4 separate regions of the Homo sapiens genome follow, and all the other regions are linked to region 1. The links come from fine-mapping of genetic effects on gene expression. A gene starts in region 1. Each other region holds a variant in brackets. All regions are shown on one strand. Distances are between the middles of the regions.

Evidence for each region.
Region 2: its variant is fine-mapped to the expression of MAP3K21 in whole blood (INTERVAL, PIP 0.97).
Region 3: its variant is fine-mapped to the expression of MAP3K21 in amygdala (GTEx, PIP 0.92).
Region 4: its variant is fine-mapped to the expression of MAP3K21 in prefrontal cortex (GTEx, PIP 0.92).

What each region holds. Positions count from the first base shown.
Region 1 is chr1:233,325,499-233,330,650 of GRCh38, forward strand. It overlaps MAP3K21 (mitogen-activated protein kinase kinase kinase 21), which reads left to right and starts at 2,226. Exons shown (of 10, transcript NM_032435.3): 1 at 2,226-3,335. The coding sequence starts at 2,531. It also overlaps a transcript of PCNX2 not described here. RefSeq lists silencers at 1,740-2,039, 2,230-2,529, 2,329-2,480, 2,670-2,869.
Region 2 is chr1:233,383,909-233,389,060 of GRCh38, forward strand. It overlaps MAP3K21 (mitogen-activated protein kinase kinase kinase 21), which reads left to right. Exons shown (of 10, transcript NM_032435.3): 10 at 1-1,240. Among named protein-coding and RNA genes, the nearest start is that of MAP3K21, 59 kb to the left of the region's middle. The variant C/A (reference allele first, on the strand shown) is at 2,134.
Region 3 is chr1:233,376,499-233,381,650 of GRCh38, forward strand. It overlaps MAP3K21 (mitogen-activated protein kinase kinase kinase 21), which reads left to right. Exons shown (of 10, transcript NM_032435.3): 8 at 1-29; 9 at 2,433-3,212. Among named protein-coding and RNA genes, the nearest start is that of MAP3K21, 51 kb to the left of the region's middle. The variant G/A (reference allele first, on the strand shown) is at 2,690.
Region 4 is chr1:233,461,207-233,466,358 of GRCh38, forward strand. No RefSeq gene overlaps it. Among named protein-coding and RNA genes, the nearest start is that of MAP3K21, 140 kb to the left of the region's middle. The variant C/T (reference allele first, on the strand shown) is at 2,887.

The sequences.
Region 1 (5,152 bases):
ATACAAAAAAAAAAAAAACCAAAAAAAATTAGCTGGGCGTGGTGGTGGGCACCTGTAGTCCCAGCTACTCGGGAGGCTGAGGCAGGAGAATGCCGCGAACCCAGGAGGCGGAGCTTGCATGAGCCGAGAAGTGGAGACTGAGAATGTGACTGAATTGCTACAATCTCATGATCAAACTTGAACAGATGAGGAGCGGAGTTGCTTCTTATGGAGAGGCAAAAAAAGTAGTTTCTTGAGATGGAATCTACTCCCAGAGGAGATGCTATGAACATTTTGAAACGACAAAAAGGATTTTGAATATCACAAACTCGGTTGGTAAAATAGCAGCAGGGTGGGAGAAGGATCACTCCAATTTTGAAAGTAGTTCTATTGTTGTTAAAATGGTATCAAACAGCTTCCCATGCTACAGAGAAGTCTTTCGTGAAAGGTAAAGTCAATCCATGTGACAAACTTCATAGTTGCCTTAAGAATTTGCCATAGCCACTCCAACTTTTAGCAACCACTGCCTTGATCAGTCAGCAGCTATCAACATAGAGGCAAGACCTCTGCCAGCTAAAAGATTATGACTTGCTGAAGGTTCAGATGATCATTAGCACATTTTACCTATAAAGTACTTAAAATTAAGGTATAAACATTCTTTAGACACAATGCTATTGCACACTTTATACGCTACAGTATACTGGAAACATAACTTGTATATATATGCACTGGGAAATCAAAAAATTCATGTCACTTGCTTTATTGCAGTGATCTGGAACCATGCTTGCAGTATCTCCAAAGTATGCCCATACTTTAAATAGTTAGATTACTTATAATACCTAATATAATGTAAATGCTCTGTAAATAGTTGTTATGCTGTATTTTATTTGTATTATTTGTATTGTTATTTTTTGGGTTTTTAAAAAACATTTTTGACCAGCTGTTGGTTGATTCTGTGGATGCAGAAGACCCACTGTAAAACTATTAACTCATTTAGTCTTCCTAAAAACCCTATAAAGTAGGTACTATTTATTATATTCCCATTTTATAGATGAGAAAACTGAGTCATAGAGAAATAAAGAAACTTGCTCAAGGTCACACAGCCAATAAATAGTTTGATCTGAGAGACAAAGAAAACTGAAAAGACAATAAATTTATCTTTATGTAACTCAGAATGTTACTGTATGTCCTATCCTCATAATATCTAAAATTGTCCCTTCTGTTATTGGAAGTACAGGATCCACACGTTAGGAAATTCTGGCCTACTACAGGATAATCTAATATTTTAGAATTTTAATAACTAAGCTCTTCTATCTTTTTAGCCTCATCACCTGCCACAGTAACCTACCAACGTCTGGCACCCAGCCATTGCCAATGCTTCCTAAACCCAAACCTGTGGGTTTCCAGGGAGACTGGGGCATTTTCCATCTGAGTAGACAGTAAAAATAAGCAAAGGATTTACCATCATGGAGCTTCTGGGACTATACCGACCACGGGTCACTCTGCGCTGCGATCTGTAACCTAGTCAGTTCTGAGATGCACGGTGGCTCAAACGCACTTAGCATGGTGACTTGCCACTCGCACTGGCCCAGGTCTGGCACCGCGCTACAATTTCTTCTGTAGCCCGTTCTGAGATTCTGTCACTCTCCCTGAACTGCAACTCTCTCTCTCCCCGCCACACCCTAAAGCCCCACATCTTCTCAACCCTCTCCCACCGCTTCTTGGAGAAGCGTCCCCTCCCTCAGTCTTACCTTTGGCTTAATTTAAACTCTCCCGAAAATTTATAGCGGATGACGGCCGATCCCGCCTCCCAGACCATGTGGGCGCGGCTCACCATTGCTCCGGAGCACCTGCGGCGGGGGCGGGGTGGGACCAGCCAGGCGGGCCCAGGGGGCGGGCCCGGCCCAAGGTGGTGGGGGACGGGCCCGGGCGCCAGGGGCGGGACGAGGCTCTGGGGACTGGCACAGAAAAGGGAAGTGAACCTGGCGAGGGCGGGGCGGGATGGTGCAGTTGGTGGGGAAGGGTGGGGCGAACCTAGGAAGGCGGTCCCATAGGGCGGGCGCAGACTGGGCGCCCGGGACGGGTCAAGGAGGGCGGAATGAACCTGGAGAGGGCGGGGCGGCTGGGGGAGGGGCGGGAAGGCCCTGGGGACTGGCCTAGGGGCGGGCCCGGGGGGGTGGGGGGGCGGTGCGGAATGGAGCCGGAGGGGGCGGGGCGGCCCTGGCGCGGCTAGGGTGGGGTGGGGCGTCCCAGGCTCTGGCTAAGGAGCGCGCGGCGGGCGGGCCGGCCGCAGGGCCTGGGCACGACCATGGTGGGACGTCGCCCGCGGCTTCGGGGACCGCTGCGGCAGCAGAGGCGGCTGGCCAGGAACGCGGGCCGAGGCTGGACCCTTTGGGCAGCTAGCCCGTGATCTCTGCCGTCACCGATCGCGATTCCTACCCCCTCGCCTTCCCCCGGCGCCGACGGCCACACCGCCGGACGATGCGCGCCCGCGGCCGCCCGGGAGGCTGAGCCCAGCTTCCCGCTCCGCCTTCCCCGCGCAGCTGCCCCCATGGCTTTGCGGGGCGCCGCGGGAGCGACCGACACCCCGGTGTCCTCGGCCGGGGGAGCCCCCGGCGGCTCAGCGTCCTCGTCGTCCACCTCCTCGGGCGGCTCGGCCTCGGCGGGCGCGGGGCTGTGGGCCGCGCTCTATGACTACGAGGCTCGCGGCGAGGACGAGCTGAGCCTGCGGCGCGGCCAGCTGGTGGAGGTGCTGTCGCAGGACGCCGCCGTGTCGGGCGACGAGGGCTGGTGGGCAGGCCAGGTGCAGCGGCGCCTCGGCATCTTCCCCGCCAACTACGTGGCTCCCTGCCGCCCGGCCGCCAGCCCCGCGCCGCCGCCCTCGCGGCCCAGCTCCCCGGTACACGTCGCCTTCGAGCGGCTGGAGCTGAAGGAGCTCATCGGCGCTGGGGGCTTCGGGCAGGTGTACCGCGCCACCTGGCAGGGCCAGGAGGTGGCCGTGAAGGCGGCGCGCCAGGACCCGGAGCAGGACGCGGCGGCGGCTGCCGAGAGCGTGCGGCGCGAGGCTCGGCTCTTCGCCATGCTGCGGCACCCCAACATCATCGAGCTGCGCGGCGTGTGCCTGCAGCAGCCGCACCTCTGCCTGGTGCTGGAGTTCGCCCGCGGCGGAGCGCTCAACCGAGCGCTGGCCGCTGCCAACGCCGCCCCGGACCCGCGCGCGCCCGGCCCCCGCCGCGCGCGCCGCATCCCTCCGCACGTGCTGGTCAACTGGGCCGTGCAGATAGCGCGGGGCATGCTCTACCTGCATGAGGAGGCCTTCGTGCCCATCCTGCACCGGGACCTCAAGTCCAGCAACAGTAAGTGGGGCCAGAGGGAGGTGGGGGAAGACTACCTCCGTGCCAGCCCAGGCGGGCTCCACAGGACATAGTACCAGATGGAAAGAGGTGGGAGTCAGCCTTAGGGCGCCAGCAGCAACTCATGCCCAGGCCTTCAGGGCTCGGAAGTCCAGCTAGTCCTTGGTTACTTGCTTTGGGGCTGGTGACACGCTTAACCTTGACTTGCCTTTGGGTGCTTTTTAAAAAAGTTCAGACCAGACTTGCTTGTAGAGGAAACATTTGTAAAATACCTGGATCTCCTAGAAACCTCAGGGGGCAGTCTGGCCTTTCAATACCAGAGGTGATTCATCTGGGTAGGACTTTGCAAACCGAGGCCTTCTGCAGATTATATGGAACCCATGACCGTCTTCACCCGGTGGCCTTCATCAAAGTCCCCGAATGCACTCGGGGACGTCAACTTTACAAGTGCTGTATTGAGGTTGCTGTTTGCCTATTCAAAATATGACTTCATGTCTCTTACCTTTTCCAAAGACTGTTTTCATTCAAATGTCTCTCTATGGGCCAGGCGCGGTGGCTCATACCTGTAATCCCAGCACTTTGGGAGGCCGAGGTGGGCGGATCACCTGAGGTTACGAGTTTGAGACCAGCCTGGCCAACATGGCGAAACCCTGTCGCTACTAAAAATACAAAAATTAGCCCGGCGTAGTGGCAGGCGCCTGTAATCCCAGCTACTCGGGAGGCGGAGGCATGAGAATCACTTGAACCCGGGAGGCGGAAGTTGCAGTGAGCCAAGATCGCGCCACTGCACTCCAGCCTAGGAGATAGAGTGAGACTCTGTCTCAAAAAAAAAAAAAGTGTCTCTACGTGAAATATGATTTTATTATTGGTTCAATGGCTTCTTTTCTCCAGACAAGAGGCACTGGTGTGCACCGTAATGCACTTTTGGGTTAATAACAAGTGCATTGTCCTTGCACAGGTACTTGAAACCTTGAAGACCTGGCCAGTGTCATTGACTTTGTTTATAAATCAGGGTGGATTTTCCAGATGTCAATAAAGAACTGACAAATGACTTAAATGCAAATCCTATGAAACTTTGCTGTATAAAAGAGCCTATAGAATTGCTGTTTGATGTTGGTTCTTTAATATTGAAGATCGCTTCATATTCTTATAATGAGATGAAATCCCAGGGAAGGTTAAAGGATGCAGCCAGCCCTGGCATTGGCCTACAACAGCTGGAGGTCTTTCAATCCTGTGAAACCTGCTAGGACAGGAGCTAGCTCAAGTGAAAACATTGTCCCTAAAGAAGAGTGACAAGAAGAAATTTACTTGAAAATTACTAATGTAGCATTTTCACTGGGAATTGTAAATAATTGGAATGTTGTAGCTAAGCATAAGCATTAGGTTTTATTTCATGATCCTCCTTCCCCCCAAGTCTCTCTATAATTTAGATTGCATCTGCTTAGGTGATGAGAGCAAAGTCTAACAAAATATGTTGTTACTGGTAGCGGTGTATTCTTAGTACTTTGACAGACCACATGAAGGACTATAGCATTGCTTGCTTTTGAACTGTGTTACAGTAAAAACAGAGCGCAATTTCCTAAAATATACTTTTCTTTCGATAATATATATATATTTTTTTCAATAAAAGAAACGTCTGACCAGGTGCTGCCATAGAATGGGTGACTTGTCCATGTGTTCCATAAGCCCTATTTCCAATGGTGTCCTGAAAGCCTGCGTCTGTTAGGAGTTTTCTGCAGAACCAGGTATTTTAAGGACATCAACAGCACCATTCATTCTTTCCCCTGCCTCTTGGCAGTTGCAGCAACTCTGTGACAACA
Region 2 (5,152 bases), 58 kb after region 1:
AAAATTATCTATGAATCACTTTTATGGTCATACATATATGATACAAATCCAGAGTTATTGGTGCAGAAATGGCTACCCGAGAGCTTGGTAAATTTGCCTTGGTTTCTTATGTTAAATGTATTGTGCTTCCCTTCTGTCTCTAGAATGTGGCTCTTCAGAAGACAGACAATCGACATTTAAATTTTTCCAAACAATGAAAAACTAAATTAAAAACATTGCTTGATATTTCATTTAAAATTGCACCTTGCTTAAGGTTTACTGAATAACTGAAATGTCAGCAATTTAAAATAAATTCAATTGTGTGATAAAATATCTCACCTATAATAGAAGAAAAGGAAAATCATATTATTTGGCAATTTTGCAGCATTGTGGTTGCCTAACAGGTATATCCAGCAGATGAGAAACAGTATGAAAGGATTGTATTAACATGGTAAGTTTTGCCCTAAGGAAAACGATCTTGCATTCTGGATTCTTGCAGCAAAGTCTCAGATACTTAATACGTTTTCTTGTTTTATCATCTGTTCTATGATTCGGCTTCACTTTGTGTGGTTATTGAATTATGTAACAGAGATTTGGTTTTCCCAAAATGTTATCACATTTGAAACTATGATTGCTTTGTGTTCAGTCCTTTTGGAACACGTAGCTTCCAGCTTAAGGGTAGAGAAATATATACCTAAAATCATCAATACATGAAAGAAAAAGGATGGAAACTATGTCCTCAGTTTTACTTCTACCAAAACATCCCTGTATGTGTGTGCATGTATGTTGGCGTGTGTGTGTGTGCATGCATATTAGTAAATGTGTGTTTGCATGTGTGTGTTGGGGAGTGTATGTGATCTGGGTGTTTGTTTATCTCTGTTATTATTCCCCTTTAGCTTTATTTTAGTCAACTCTACATTATGATGAATTTCAAAATGAAGCTGTATTAAAATAATTGTAATATAACAATTCAATCTCACATGTTACTGCAGATAGTTAACTTTTGCTGCAATCTATTGTACATTTGCAATTTTCTGTGTTAGTAAACTTAGCAGAATCTGGTTATTTATTTTTGTGTAGGCTTAATGTTCACTGAAAGATAAGTCAATTACTGTTAGTAAAAAATTAAGGTACTCTCACTGCAGAGATTTAAGGCCTGGGCCTAATGTGCTGTATTATGAAGCCTTGTGACTGAAAAATATGTTTACATATGTTGTCTATTTTTTTAATAAACTTTTATAGCTGGTCTATTTGCTCAGTAGCTTTGATCCTCTCTTGATTATTGTGACTATAGTTTGCAATGGTTTATTTTGTATTCAATAAGAAAAATTGTGTTAATAAAGATTATTGTTTAATAAGCCAGGTATTAACCTGCTAAATATATTAAACTGAAAATCACTAAATGAGTCATTCAATTAAATACATCAAAAAAGGTAGAATGAAATGTTTTATTTCAAATTTTTTTGGTTTACATATGCATTGAAAAGTTATATTTCATGGTGAGCGTTTTGCAAGTCCAGCTTTTCAGAAGACACACTTTTGCAGAGTGAAATGAGTATGAGAAAAAAATCTCAGTGATTAAGGAGACATGTTGATTTTATTGTTTAATTTTATGTTTAAATCAGAGGAATTTCAAACACCACTTAACATGTAGAAATTCTTACTAAGTGATAAAAGCTTGAGTGAATGAGGAAAGCAGATCGCAGGACTTCATGGAGATCATAGCATTACCCCACCACATGGGAGGGAGCAAAACGTAATGTGCATTGAATATCTGTTAAGTATGGGGAACCCTCCTAGGTGCCTATAGAAGACAACTCCTGTAATTCTCTTTAATAAAAATTGTGAGAGAAAGCCAGGCATGGTGGCTCACGCCTGTAATCCCAGCACTTTGGGAACCTGAGGTGGGCGGATCAAGAGGTCAAGAGATCGAGACCATCCTGGCCAACATGGTGAAACCCCTTCTTTACTAAAAATACAAAAAATTAGTCTGGCATGATGGTGCCCGCCTGTAATCCAAGTTACTCAGGAGGCTGAGGCAGAAGAATTGCTTGAATCTGGGAGGCAGAGGTTGCAGTCAGCCGGGATCGCACCATTGCACTCCAGCCTGGTGACAGAGTGAGACTTAATCTCAAAAAAAAAAAAAAAAAAAAA[C/A]AAACTGTGAGATAAGTAATACTACTCCTATCGCATTAGATATGAAACAGACACAGAAAGGTTTGGTAAATTTCCAAAGACCCAGTCTGAGTCAAGTGATCACCATCTACCTGTTCACACCTGTGGTTAATAGTTGTAAGCATGGTGTAGAAGATGAGGACATCTTGCAAATGAGCTTTGTAAATGTTATCTAAAGCTAAGGTAGTTTCTCTCTCATCAAAAAGTCAAAAGTCTAAAAATGTATGAGTACCATTGAAGTTAAATAAGATATAGAGATAAATATTGAAATTTGAAACATTTTATTTAGGAAGCAAGAATTGCAATTCAGGACATACACAGAGACCAGGTGATCTTCAGTATGTCCAAAGAACAAAGAGACAGGAGTTTTATTAAAGAATTGTTACATATTGTTTTGAAAGAAAGCTCATTGGCACTAGAGAAGCTTTTGGACTCTGGCAAGCTCTGGTTGGTGAGTCATGGCAGGAATTAAAACAAGTCTTAGAGTCACAAATTGTTGCTTCAGCAGCTACCAGGTAAAACTGGCCCTGGGGTGACAGCAGGCCATTTCAGCAGCTGGGCTTGGAGAAAATACATTCGTGGAGTAGGTGCTATGTCCCCCACGTATGTTTTCCTCTCTGGCCCCTCAGTTCTGATTTAACTGAGTATGTATGACAAGAATTGCCCAATTTGTATTATTAACTTTCACAGTACTTATTTAAAAATAAAACACTATTAGCTAATAACACTTAATACAATGGAAAATGCAATAGAAAGGAGTAAAATATGCATATCTGATAGATCAACTCAGAGAAATGAGGTATTCTGTTCAATAGGTTCATAAATGCCATGGTCTGAATATGTCCCTCAAAATTCCTATGTTGAAATCGTAACCATCAAAGTTTTGGAATTAAGAGGTGGGAGGTAATTAGATCATGAATTCTCATGAATGGGGTTAATGCTGTTTTAAAAGAGGCCTGAAGGAAGCTGTTATCCCTTTACACCATGTGAGGACACAGTGAGAAACTGCTATATATACACTAGGAAACAGGCCCACAGCAGACACAGAGTCTGCCAGCACCATCATCTTGGACTTCCCAGCCTCCAGAACTGTGAGCAACAAATGTGTGTTGTTTAGAAGCCACCTACTTTATGTTATTTTGTTATAACAGCCCAGATGGACTAAGACAATAAATATGGTGAAATTATGTAAGAACTGCAATATACACATAAAATAATTTAATTGGGCTTAAGCTGTCTCTATTCTTTACTTCTGCAAAGATCAACATGCTGAAACATAGTGAAAGATGAAGTATTTGTGAATGAAACAATGTAATCGGTACCAGAGAGTGGAACAAAAACTAGCTATTGTTTGTGGTGGCAGGCGCCTGTAGTCCCAGCTACTCGGGAGGCTGAGGCAGGAGAATGGCATGAACCCAGGAGGTGGAGCTCGCAGTGAGCCGAGATTGTGCCACTGCACTCCAGCCTGGGCAACAGAGCAAGACTCCATCTCAAAAACAAACAACAAACAAACAACAACAACAACAAAACTAGCTATTGTTTTTACAACCAAGCAAAATATAGCAGGTCCACACATAACATTTTTTCATTCAATGTCATTCTGTTATAATATTAACGAGGAAAAAAATTTGATTCCCAGCCAGGGCTGCTGTCTGTGGGGTGTGCACTTTCTCCCCATGTCTGCGTGGGTTTTCTCCAGGGACTCTGGTTTCCTCCCACATCCCAAAGACATGCATGCCAGGTTAACTGGTGTGTCTCAATTGTCTGAGTGTGAGAGTGTGGGTGTGTGAGTGTGCCCTGCCATAGAATGGGGTTGATTCCCACCTTGTGCCTTGAGCTGCTGGGATGGGCTCTGGCCACCTGCGACCCTGAACCAGAATCACTGGGTATATAATTACCTTAAATTGTTTTCATTAATCTTAGATGTATGTATAGATAACATTTATTTCAATGTTTAGTGTTAGAAGTGTTTGGGGTCTTTATTTAGCGATTTAGTGGTGTTTTCGTGACCAGAAATATGCCCTAGGAACTTAACTGCTGTTTTTATTAATTCACCTGTAGTGAAATTGGTTTTGTGTTACCTTGTTTTGCTTAAAGTCACAGTTTCCAAATACCTATAGACAATGTTAAGTGAGGACTTCCTGTAAGTAGTTTAGATTGAGGAGCTTCCACACACTGACAAACTCGTTTAGTGGCTACTGTGTTAGGCACCACGAAAGAGACACCAGATGTAGCGGAGAGCAAGGAAGATGAGGCTTGTCCCCTGCCTGGATGGTTTTAATGAGAAACTGTGCTCAGGGCAACTGCATGGACATCATGTGACTTGTGCAGTCACACAGAGCCTCACACTCAGATGGTCCCTGAGCCTGACTTTCATGCTCTGTGAACATCATCTTGAAATTCTTAATAATTTTTAAAGAGGGAGCCCTCATTTTTATCTTTCACAGGGCCTCACAAGCTATGCGGCCAATTCTGACAACAAGCGAAGGGAGTGTTAAAAAAAGGTGAAGTCACTGGGGCTTTGATAGCATTAAAGGAGTTCATCTAATCTTGGGTGGGTGGGAGGTGTCAGGGAAGTGTCTGAGGAAGCCAGGATGTCCACTGGATGAGGAATGCTCCATGCAGAGTTGCTAGCTTGTGAAAAGTCCTAAGTCATTTTTCTTGTGCTGCATTCCATATTTTCTCTTTGTTTTTGGCTCTTAGCATTTTTGCCATGACACATCTAGTTATGGATCTCTTTGCATATATACTTCTTGGAGTTTGTTGAATTTCTTGAATGTGTAGATCCATGTTTTCAGCACATTTGAGAAGTTTTCAGCCATTATATCTTCAAATATTTTTTTCTTCTTCTTTTCCTCTCTTCTTCTGCTACTCCCATTACACATGCTGGTGTACCTAGTGAATCCAGCATTTGTCTGTGGCTCTGCTTATTTTCATTCATTCTTTTTTTTCCAGATTATATGATCTGTATTGATCTGTCTTCAAACTCTGATTCTTGAGT
Region 3 (5,152 bases), 51 kb after region 1:
CTTGGCTTCATTGTTTGTGGACCAGCCAGGTAAATGTGTTTCAGGAGGTAGGATTTGCTTGAGCAGTCCTTGGCATCTGATTGTGCTGAAGCTTTGCTTTTACAGTCTTACGTGGTCATTAAAGTAGCAGAGGGGAGATTAGCAAGTAATGGCATTTCTTATAGCTTTACTTAAATTCAGAAGTTATTTTCCGTCAAGTATTTATGGCAGGAAGTAATTAGGCTTCACGTGGTTTTGGGAATTTGTAACTCTTCTTCCTTACCAGAAACATTATTATCACAATTAATTATGTAAAACCAAATCAATTTAGTATGGGAAATATTAGATGTAAAAATATAGACCCCCCTGAAAGTTCTGCTGAGATTAAGGGGTATGGCTTCTTGCTATAGTGCCACCTGTTGACATGAGGAAATCCAATGAAACAGGTTAACTATGAAAAACACAAAAACTAGCCGGCATGGTGGTGCTTGCTTGTAATCCCAGCTACTCAGGAGGCTGAGGCAAGAGAATCACTTGCACCTGGGAGCCAGAGGTGGCAGTGAGCCAAGATTGTGCCACTGCATGCCAGCCTGGACAATAGAGTGAATGAGACTCTATCTCTAGATAAATAAATAAATAAATAAATAAGAAAAATGACTCCTTGGAGAGTTTTACACTGGAATTTCTATTTAATTTAAATGAATCATAATGATTTACTTTCAATATTCTATATTTGTATTCAGTATTCAGTATTAAAAGATTGAAGAGATGGAAATCGTTGAAAAACTTCAAGCACGGTTACTAACACAGAAAATAAAATTGGTCTTTATACTTGACCATTTAGGCAGACTCTTTGGTACTTTGATCAAATTAAAGATGCCTTAGCAAGACACAATGTAAATGTATTGAATTTGTTATTGGTACTGTGCTCAATTTCACAAGCACCTTTGCACTCACTACCTGGGTTCAGCTTCTCCTTCTGAAGGTTCTCCTTTATGAAGGAAAAGGGAGCTTGGGTCAGCAACGTCAGGGAGTGGAAGGAAAAAGAGGGTACCCCAAACAAAAGGCACCACAGGGAAGAGCACAGGGTTCTTTGGAGAAAGAAAGCTGGCACCCCAAATTGTCTACATCAGCAGTCCCCAACCTTTATGGCACCAGAGACCAGTTTCATGGAAGACAGTTTTTCCATGGACCAGTGGGGTAGGGATGGTTTCAGGATGATCCAAGCGCATTACATTTGTTGTGCACTTTATTATTATTACATTGTAATTCATAATGAAATAATTCTACAACTCACCATAATGTAGAATCAGTGGGAGCCCTGAGCTTGTTTTCCTACAACTAGATGGTCCCATCTGGGAGTGATGGGAGACAGCAACAGATCATCAGATCCTAGATTCTCATAAGGAGCAACCTAGATCCCTTGTATGTGCAGTTCACAATGGGGTTCATGCTCCTATGAGAATCTAATGCTTCTGCTGAACTGACACAGGGCGGAGCTCAGGTGGTAATGTGAGCAATGGGCACTGGCTGTAAATGCAAAAGAAGCTTCACTCGCCCACCTGCTGCTCACTTCCTGCTGTGCAGCCTGGTTCCTAACAGGCCACGGTATCAGTCCATGGCCTGGGGTTCAGGGACCCCTGGTCTAGATCATCAAGCATGTTTAGGTATACTAGGATGTAGTGTTGGAAAAAATTAGAGATGTTATTTGGAAATCAGATTAATGAGTTTGTTGTTTAATTATGCGCTGTCACTTTTGTGATAAGAATGTTAGCTTCCTCTTAAGCGGGTATAATTTGTAACCTTTGGGATTCTGTAACCTCTTGGGAGAATCTTCTATTTTAATGGTCCCCAAACTTCAGTAAAGGCTAGCTGAAACACAGACTGCTGGACTCCACTCTTCAGAATTTCTGATTCCATAGTCTGGGGTGGGCCAATAATTTACATTTCTACAAATTCCCAGGGGATGCAGATGCTGCCAGTCCAGGCCACACACTTTGAGAACTGCTGATCTGCTACAGAACAGTTAGTTTATACACAGGAAAGCTGTAGATAATGGAGCCTGATGCATGTATTTAGGTGAAGTGAGGAAAAGAGCACATTTGGTGACATATTTAGTGATTTTGTGCCTATGGTTGTGCGTTTTTGTGTTTTGATGACTGTTTCTACAATAGTGTCTATTATTGAAGCTGATGAAGAACAGCTTCCCGAAGCATAGGAAACAGCAGATGGCTAGCTTGCTGGTTCATCTGCAGGGAACCTGAAGTTGTAGGGCCCTAGACTCTTGCTCCATGGAGCCCTCCTGGATGAATCATTTGCAGAAATGAAAAGGGCTGCATGTGTTTTGATTTAAAATATGTATTTATTATATTTTAGCTTTATTTTACAATCTTGTTTAAATGACTTTTGCTGTAAAATGATACTACAGTGTATGTACTTATACCTTTATTTAGGGTCCTGTGAAGAGCCAAAACTTTCCCCTGATGGATTAGAACACAGAAAACCAAAACAAATAAAATTGCCTAGTCAGGCCTACATTGATCTACCTCTTGGGAAAGATGCTCAGAGAGAGAATCCTGCAGAAGCTGAAAGCTGGGAGGAGGCAGCCTCTGCGAATGCTGCCACAGTCTCCATTGAGATGACTCCTACGAATAGTCTGAGTAGATCCCCCCAGAGAAAGAAAACGGAGTCAGCTCTGTATGGGTGCACC[G/A]TCCTTCTGGCATCGGTGGCTCTGGGACTGGACCTCAGAGAGCTTCATAAAGCACAGGCTGCTGAAGAACCGTTGCCCAAGGAAGAGAAGAAGAAACGAGAGGGAATCTTCCAGCGGGCTTCCAAGTCCCGCAGAAGCGCCAGTCCTCCCACAAGCCTGCCATCCACCTGTGGGGAGGCCAGCAGCCCACCCTCCCTGCCACTGTCAAGTGCCCTGGGCATCCTCTCCACACCTTCTTTCTCCACAAAGTGCCTGCTGCAGATGGACAGTGAAGATCCACTGGTGGACAGTGCACCTGTCACTTGTGACTCTGAGATGCTCACTCCGGATTTTTGTCCCACTGCCCCAGGAAGTGGTCGTGAGCCAGCCCTCATGCCAAGACTTGACACTGATTGTAGTGTATCAAGAAACTTGCCGTCTTCCTTCCTACAGCAGACATGTGGGAATGTACCTTACTGTGCTTCTTCAAAACATAGACCGTCACATCACAGACGGACCATGTCTGATGGAAATCCGACCCCAAGTAGGTTGCATTAATTAGGTAAAAGCATAAAACACTGCTGTAGAGATTAGTATGTGAAACAGTATGGATTTATGATTTTATCTTTTCCTGGTGATGACATTTAATAATTTGTTTTTACTGTTCATGTAGATCTTTGAACCTTACCCTTCTCTTATTTGATTTTAACTATGATTTGGATTCTGGGAAAAGTGTAATTGAATTTCAGTAACTGAAACCTATAATAGCATATCAAAGCAGAAAGAACACATGGAGAATAACCACCCAGCCCCCTCACGTTACGGGAAAGACAAGCCAGCTGCCCCAGTTAGAACCACGGATGAGTGGGAGGGCTGGAACTGAAACTGGCCTCTCGCCTCCCTGCGGGCCTTGTCTCCTCCACTGCTGTACATGTCATTGTTCTGTTTCTGTTGGGACTGTGTGTAGCAGGTGATCAGCCTGCTAGGGCTGCCATAACAGAGTGCCACAGCATGGAGAGATGTTCAGCACAAACTCATTGTCCAGCAGTTCCAGAGGCTGGAAGTCAGATCAAGGTGTCTGAAGGGTTGGTTCCTTCTGAGCTCAGCCTGGCTCCTTGACTTCTAGACGGCCGTTTTCTCCCTGTGTTCTCACACAGTCTTCACTCTGAGTGCATCTGTGTCCTAATCATCTGTGTCCTAATCTCTTTTTAGGACATCAGTCACATTGGATTAGGGCCCACCCTAATGACCTCATTTTACCTTAATCACCTCTGTACAGACCCTATTCCACATACAGTGACATCTGAGGGACAGAGGGTTAGGGCTTCTGCTTAGGAATTTTGTGGGGACACAGTTCACCCCATGACAGCAAGTATTACCCTGTTGATGTATGTTATACCAGACAGTTCCATGAGGTTTATGTCCAGATGTGGAATCTCTGAAAGAAAAGAAAATCAAATTTTTAAATAGTTTTTTAGTCTATTCAACAAGAGGGGCTTGGGCAGAAGGCAACCAGTGGTATTTCCACAGCACTTTATAGATGTTAAAGCACTTGGACATAAATTGTCTCTTAGTTTTTATGGCAACTCTATTATATGCAAGAGAATTCAAACTTACGGAAAATTAATGTTATTCAAGGTCACACAATTAGGAAGTAGTGGTGTCAGAATTTAAACCCGGGATCCTTCTGCTGTATCACAGTGTCTCACTCCTCCTCACTGCGGTATTTTTTCCATTCCTAAAATTCAGTGAGTATTGATGTGACTGGATCATGCTATCATGTGCTAGAATGTACTCAGCTTTGAGATTTCTGGGGTTAAGTGGCACTGAAATACTGACATTTGAGGAGATAATATGGGTACTTTGGAAGAATGGGGGATTTTGAGTCATAGAACAAAGGTTCAAGTTCTAGTTGTACTATTTGGTAAGTTTGTGATGCTGGGGAAATTACGTAGACTGCTTTCTTGTTTGAATGTCTTAAAAAGCATTGTAGTGTCATGGTTAATAGTATGGAAGCTAGCTGGGCTCATATCTCTGCTTATATGCTGAGTGAATTTGGGCGAATCACTTAAACATTTTGTGCCTCAGTTTCTTCATCTATAAAATGGGGACAGTAACAATATACATACCTAATACTATACTTACCTAATCTGTACAATTGAGATCGTGGTAAAAGTCAGATGGCACACTAAGTGCTCTGTAGAGCTTGAGTATTATTTATTTTGTATGTGAACATAATTGCAATAACCTTATATACCTGTCATGAATATTAAGTGAGGTAATATATACAAAAAATGCTTTCTAAATTGTAAAATGCTATGCTAGCATTGGTTATAAAGCTATATTAAGACAAACTGCTTTCATCCTTTTTATCTTTTCCTTTACTTCTTTTTAAATATTATATCTGGATATGATATTTTCTATATTATTGTTCATTGCCTTTAGATAAATTGGTTTATTATCTTTCTGTAGGTCAATAAGTAT
Region 4 (5,152 bases), 140 kb after region 1:
TCTCTCATCTTTTTTTTTTTTTTTTTTTTTTTTTTTTTTTGAGATGAAGCTCTGTCACCCAGGCTCGAGTGCAGTGGTGCAAAAATCTCGGCTCACTGCAACCTCTGCATCCTGGGTTCAAGTGGTTCTCCTGCCTTAGCCTCCCAAGTAGCTGGGATTATAGGCGCCTGCCACCATGCCTGGCTAATTTTTGTATTTTTAGTAGAGACGAGGTTTCACTCGTCTCTACTAAATTAGATGTCATCTCTATTAAATTAGATGTTGGCCAAGCCAATTTTGAACTCCTGACCTCAAGTGATCCACCCGCCCTGGCCTCCCAAAGTGTTGGGATTACAGGTGTGAGCCACCGTGCCCGGCCGTCTCTCATCTTTTTATTGGTATGTTTAGACTCAGTATTCAGAGGTAGGGTCATCTCATCAAAAACAAGGTGATATAAATAGAGCAGGAATCATGACCCCAAACCTCCAGTGGCTCATTCAAGTAATTAAGGAAGTGATTAATTAGATTCTGAGATGAAAGATAAAACATGAGAAAAATGCTTTGTTACTCTCTGTATTAGTCAGGATTCTCTAGAGAGACAGAACAAATAGGAGATGGATATAGACATAGATTAGATATGGATGTAGATATAGATAGGTAGATGGGAGAGGATTTATTAGGGGAATTGGCTCAAATGATTATTGAGGCTGAGAAGTCCCAGGACAGGTTGTCTGCAAGCTGGAGACCTGGGAATTCTGGTAGTACAGCTCAGTACAAGTCCAAAGGCATCAGAGCCAGGAGTGATGCCATCAGAGCCAGAGGATGATGGTGTAACTCTCATTCCAAGGCCAAAGGCCTGAGAACCCAGGGGTCATTGGTGTAACTCGTGGAGTCCAAAGATCAGAGAGCCTGAAGTTGTCCAAGGACAGGAGAGGGACAATATATCCCAACTCTAGTAGAGAGATTAACCTATTTGCCCTTTCTGTTTTTGTTTTCTGCAGGTCCCCAGTAGACTAGATGGTGCCTGCCCACATTGAGGGTGGATCTTCCCCACTTAGTCCTCTCAGACTCACATGCCGATCTCCTTTGGAAACACCTTCACAGACACACTCAGAAAAAAAACGCTTTACCAGATTTCTAGGTATTCCTTATTCCAGTCAAATTAACATCAAAACTTAATCATCACGCTCCCTTATTTTTGTTTTCCTAATTGTTTCATGCATGTAAATAGCTCTAAGAGAGTCCATCAAAACCATGAAATCTCTTCCCTCCCAGAACTGGGTGGCACAGAAAGTGGTGGAGGCTGGTGTCACGATGCAGATGAAATACGGACCCATGTAAATACAGACCTGTAGTCTGCCACTGCTACAGAGGCTCCACTTCGTTGTGGGATGTAAGATGCAGGTGCAGACTGAAATAGGGAAACTCTGAGCCAGAGGAGGAGACAGTGATTTGGGCCTCCATATGCTCTGCGGGATATAGATCCTGAGCTCCACTGACCCCCATTCCAAACTTAGGAGGCTTCCTGCTTTGGCTGCCATTCAGGGACAAATTCATGAAGACTTCCTCATAGCTCTTCCTCCCAAGGCAAATCCATGGACACCCTCCCCTCTGGCTCCCCTCCCAATTGGTGGAGGCTGGGGGAATGGATCTAAAGTAGGAGGGACCTCAAATCTGATAGTTATTCAGGTCTTACTGGAGCTTCCAGAGAGCTGGGCCTTGGGATCTTCATTTATAAAATGAGGGGTTTGCACCAGGCAGTCCGTGCCAGCTCAGATTCTGCAAACATGATTTCCTTTACCTATTTATTTCTAAAGTAATGCGTGGGCCTGCACGATGGCTCACGTCTGTAATCCCAGCACTTTGGGAGACCAAGTAGGAGGATCACTTGAAGTCAGGAGTTCAAGACCAGGCTGGCAAACATGGTGAAACCCTGTCTCTACTAAAAATACAAAGCTAATTGGGTGTGGTGGCATGCACCTGCAGTCCCAGCTACTCAGGAGGCTGAAGCAGGAGAATTGCTTGAACCAAGGAGGCAGAGGTTGCAGTGAGCTGAGATCGTGCCATTGCACTCCAGCTTGGGTAACAGAGGGAGATTCCATCTCATAATAAAATAAAATAATGTGTGCTACTTAAAAAGCCTCAAATAATACAATGTATATAAAATCCCTTCATGTGTTTTGAGCTGTGACAATGCAAATATGAAGAATGAGTAGGGATCATCTGACTGTCTATGACTATGTCTCCATTTGACGGGGACAATTTCCATTTGCACCTGTTGTCTGTCAGTCATTGCTAACAACACTCCTTTTATTCTCAAAATTTCCCAGTTGAAATGATTATTTATATGGACCACACAAGCATGGACAGCCCTGGGTGTGGTGCTACGCCACGGCTGGCTGATGAGAGTAGTTTCCCATAACTATAGAAGACATGGGCAGAGCTTTAGTTAAATAAGAAAAAGAGACTGAATAAGCTGACTGCTATGATGTGTCAAACCCACCAAGGCCTAGAATCCTATGTGATGTCCCCAAAACCCTATGAAAAAAGAGGGGGATTCTAAGACGAGTGAATGCCCAGTTATAACCCTAAGGTAAAGGGAGAAGGAGGGGCATCTGGGGAGTCAGTGGCCCTTCTAAGACTTGTAGACATCAAACGAACGCCACTCTCTGTGGGATTAAAAAAGTGGCAGAGAAATTCACACACACACATACACACACACACACACACACACATACACACACACACACACACACCACACCACACACCATTTCTTGACCCTACCTCCCTCTCCAGTTGTCATTTTATTCCATGCTGTCCCTCATCACCTGGTTTTCTGAAAAATAACCCTGGCCTTATTGTTTCTCCTCTTTTACTTTGGTCAAGCTTCTGTGCCCACTCCTCACT[C/T]TCACCAAGATCATTAATGAAGCACTTCAGGTCCTTGTTAGTTGACCTGCCTTCTTGCAGTGCAGGATGCTGATTGCTGTCTTTTTGAAGTCTTCCTTTTCCAACCTCTGTAGTGCTCCTTCTCAGACATCTTTGCTCAATCCTTAGAGTTTGGGTTCCCCAGTGTTCTGCCCTCATCCCATTCAACAATTCTTCCTGCAGCTCTTGTCCACACCAATTCAACTATTACCTACAAACCAGTGAGTTGAAATCCCTATCTCCAGACGTTTCTCATGAGTTCCATGCTTATATACCTGACTACCTTGAGACACATTCCTATAGTTTTTCCCCATGCACCCCACTTCACACGCTTAAACCTGAGATCATCAACTGCCTTCACCATTTCCCAAGCCTATCTTGACTCTTGCATCCCTAATCTTGTGGAATCTCACTGGCATCTACCCCGTTCCCAAGGAAGGTCTATATAAACTATCAACTTTATTTTCCTTTTACTCCTTACATCCAAACAGTCAATAGATGCTGTCAATTTTATGCTTTTGACCTATATCATGCTTCTGCCCTCTTCTCCATCCCCACTTCCCTTCTTCAGGCTTCTATTACTTTCCATCTAAAACACTGCATGGGCAACTTCATTGATCTCCTTGCCTCTAGCTGTGTTCCCTTTTGGTCCAACCCTGTGTACTCTGACATCAGAGCAACCTTTTGAAATCCCAAATCTGATCACTGTTGCCACTTTATTGGAGTTCCTTCCTATGTAGCTCTGTTTTCCTTGGGGTCCTGGAATGATATTGGAGAAGGCATGGATCAGACCAATAGCTATAGGAGAAATGGCACATAAAAGCCAAGGTCTTATCATAGGCTCGGGACATTCTTTATATATTTTTTTTCCTGAACACTGTTTGGATTCGCCCCATTAAGCAGAGCAAACACCAAGATTCTTTTACAATTGGAAAAAGGTCCTAAGAAGGAGACCCTGGGGTTCCAGTTAATTTGACTGTGTGGTGGCTCAAGAAGCTAGTTAGAAAGATATGTGACCTCATTTGTTTTCCTAAACTGATGAAGGGAGCCTACAGTTACATGTGAATAAGGAACTGTAGCAATGAATAAAGAACTGTAGCAGAGAGAAGAGACAACCTGGCACATGCTGGTTGGACTCCAGTCTTCCAGGGTTGGGAGATGCTCCTCCCGTACTGCATTCTAGTGTTTCCCTCTAAACTTCTGGATTCCATCACGTCTCTGCTAAATACACTTCAAAGCTTCCTTCAGGATTAAAGCAAAATTCTTGAGACTAGCACATGACATTGTACTTGGTCTGGCCTCTGCCTTCCTCGCTACTCTGCCAACTGTATCTCTTACTCCAATTAGACAAATCATTTTCAAAAGTGCCACACTTTGGTCTTGCTCCATGTTTTCTCTGCTGGGAACCTCTTTATTCTCTCAGGGCTTCTGTGCCTCATTCCTTCTTTGCTGTTTGGATGAGATTTGTTTATCCCCATCAAACCTCATGCTGACATTTGATCTCCAATATGGTGACCTTGGGAAGTGGAGCCTAGTGGGTGGTGTTTAGGTCATGGAGGGCGGGGAATGAATCCCTCATGAATGGGAGACTGAGGTGGGAAGATCACTTGAGCCCAGGAATTCAGGACCAGCCTGGGCAACATAAGCAAAGTCCCGTCTCTAAAAATAAAATTAAAACAGTTAGCTGGGCATGGTGGCACATGCCTGTAGTCTTAGCTACTCAAGAGGCTGAGGCAGGAAGATCTCTTTGAGAGGTGACAACATGCTAGCAGCCCTCGCTCACTCTCAGCGCCTCCTCGGCCTCGGTGTCCACTCTGGCTGCGCTTGAAGAGCACTTCAGCCCGCCGCTGCACTGTGGGAGCCCCTCTCTGGGCTGGCCGAGGCCGAATTTGGCTCCCTCTGCTTGCCCGGAGGTATGGAGGGAGAGGCCCGGGCGGGAACCAGGGCTGTACGTGAAGCTTGTGGCGAGCCCGGGTTCCGGCTGGGTGCAGGCTCAGTGGCCCGCAGTCGGAGCGGCCGGTCGGCGCCGCTGGCCCAGGGCAGTGAGGGGCTTAGCACCCAGGCAAGCAGCTTCGGAGGGTGCGCCAGTTCCCCCAGCACTGTCAGCCCGCCTGCGCCATGCTCGAATTCTTGCCGGGCCTCAGCCTCTTCCTTGCGGGACAGGGCTCGGGACCTGCAGCCCTCCATGCCTGAGCCTGCCGCTGCCCCTGCCCTGGCCTTGGCCCCCCGCCCACCATCTTCTTGCATG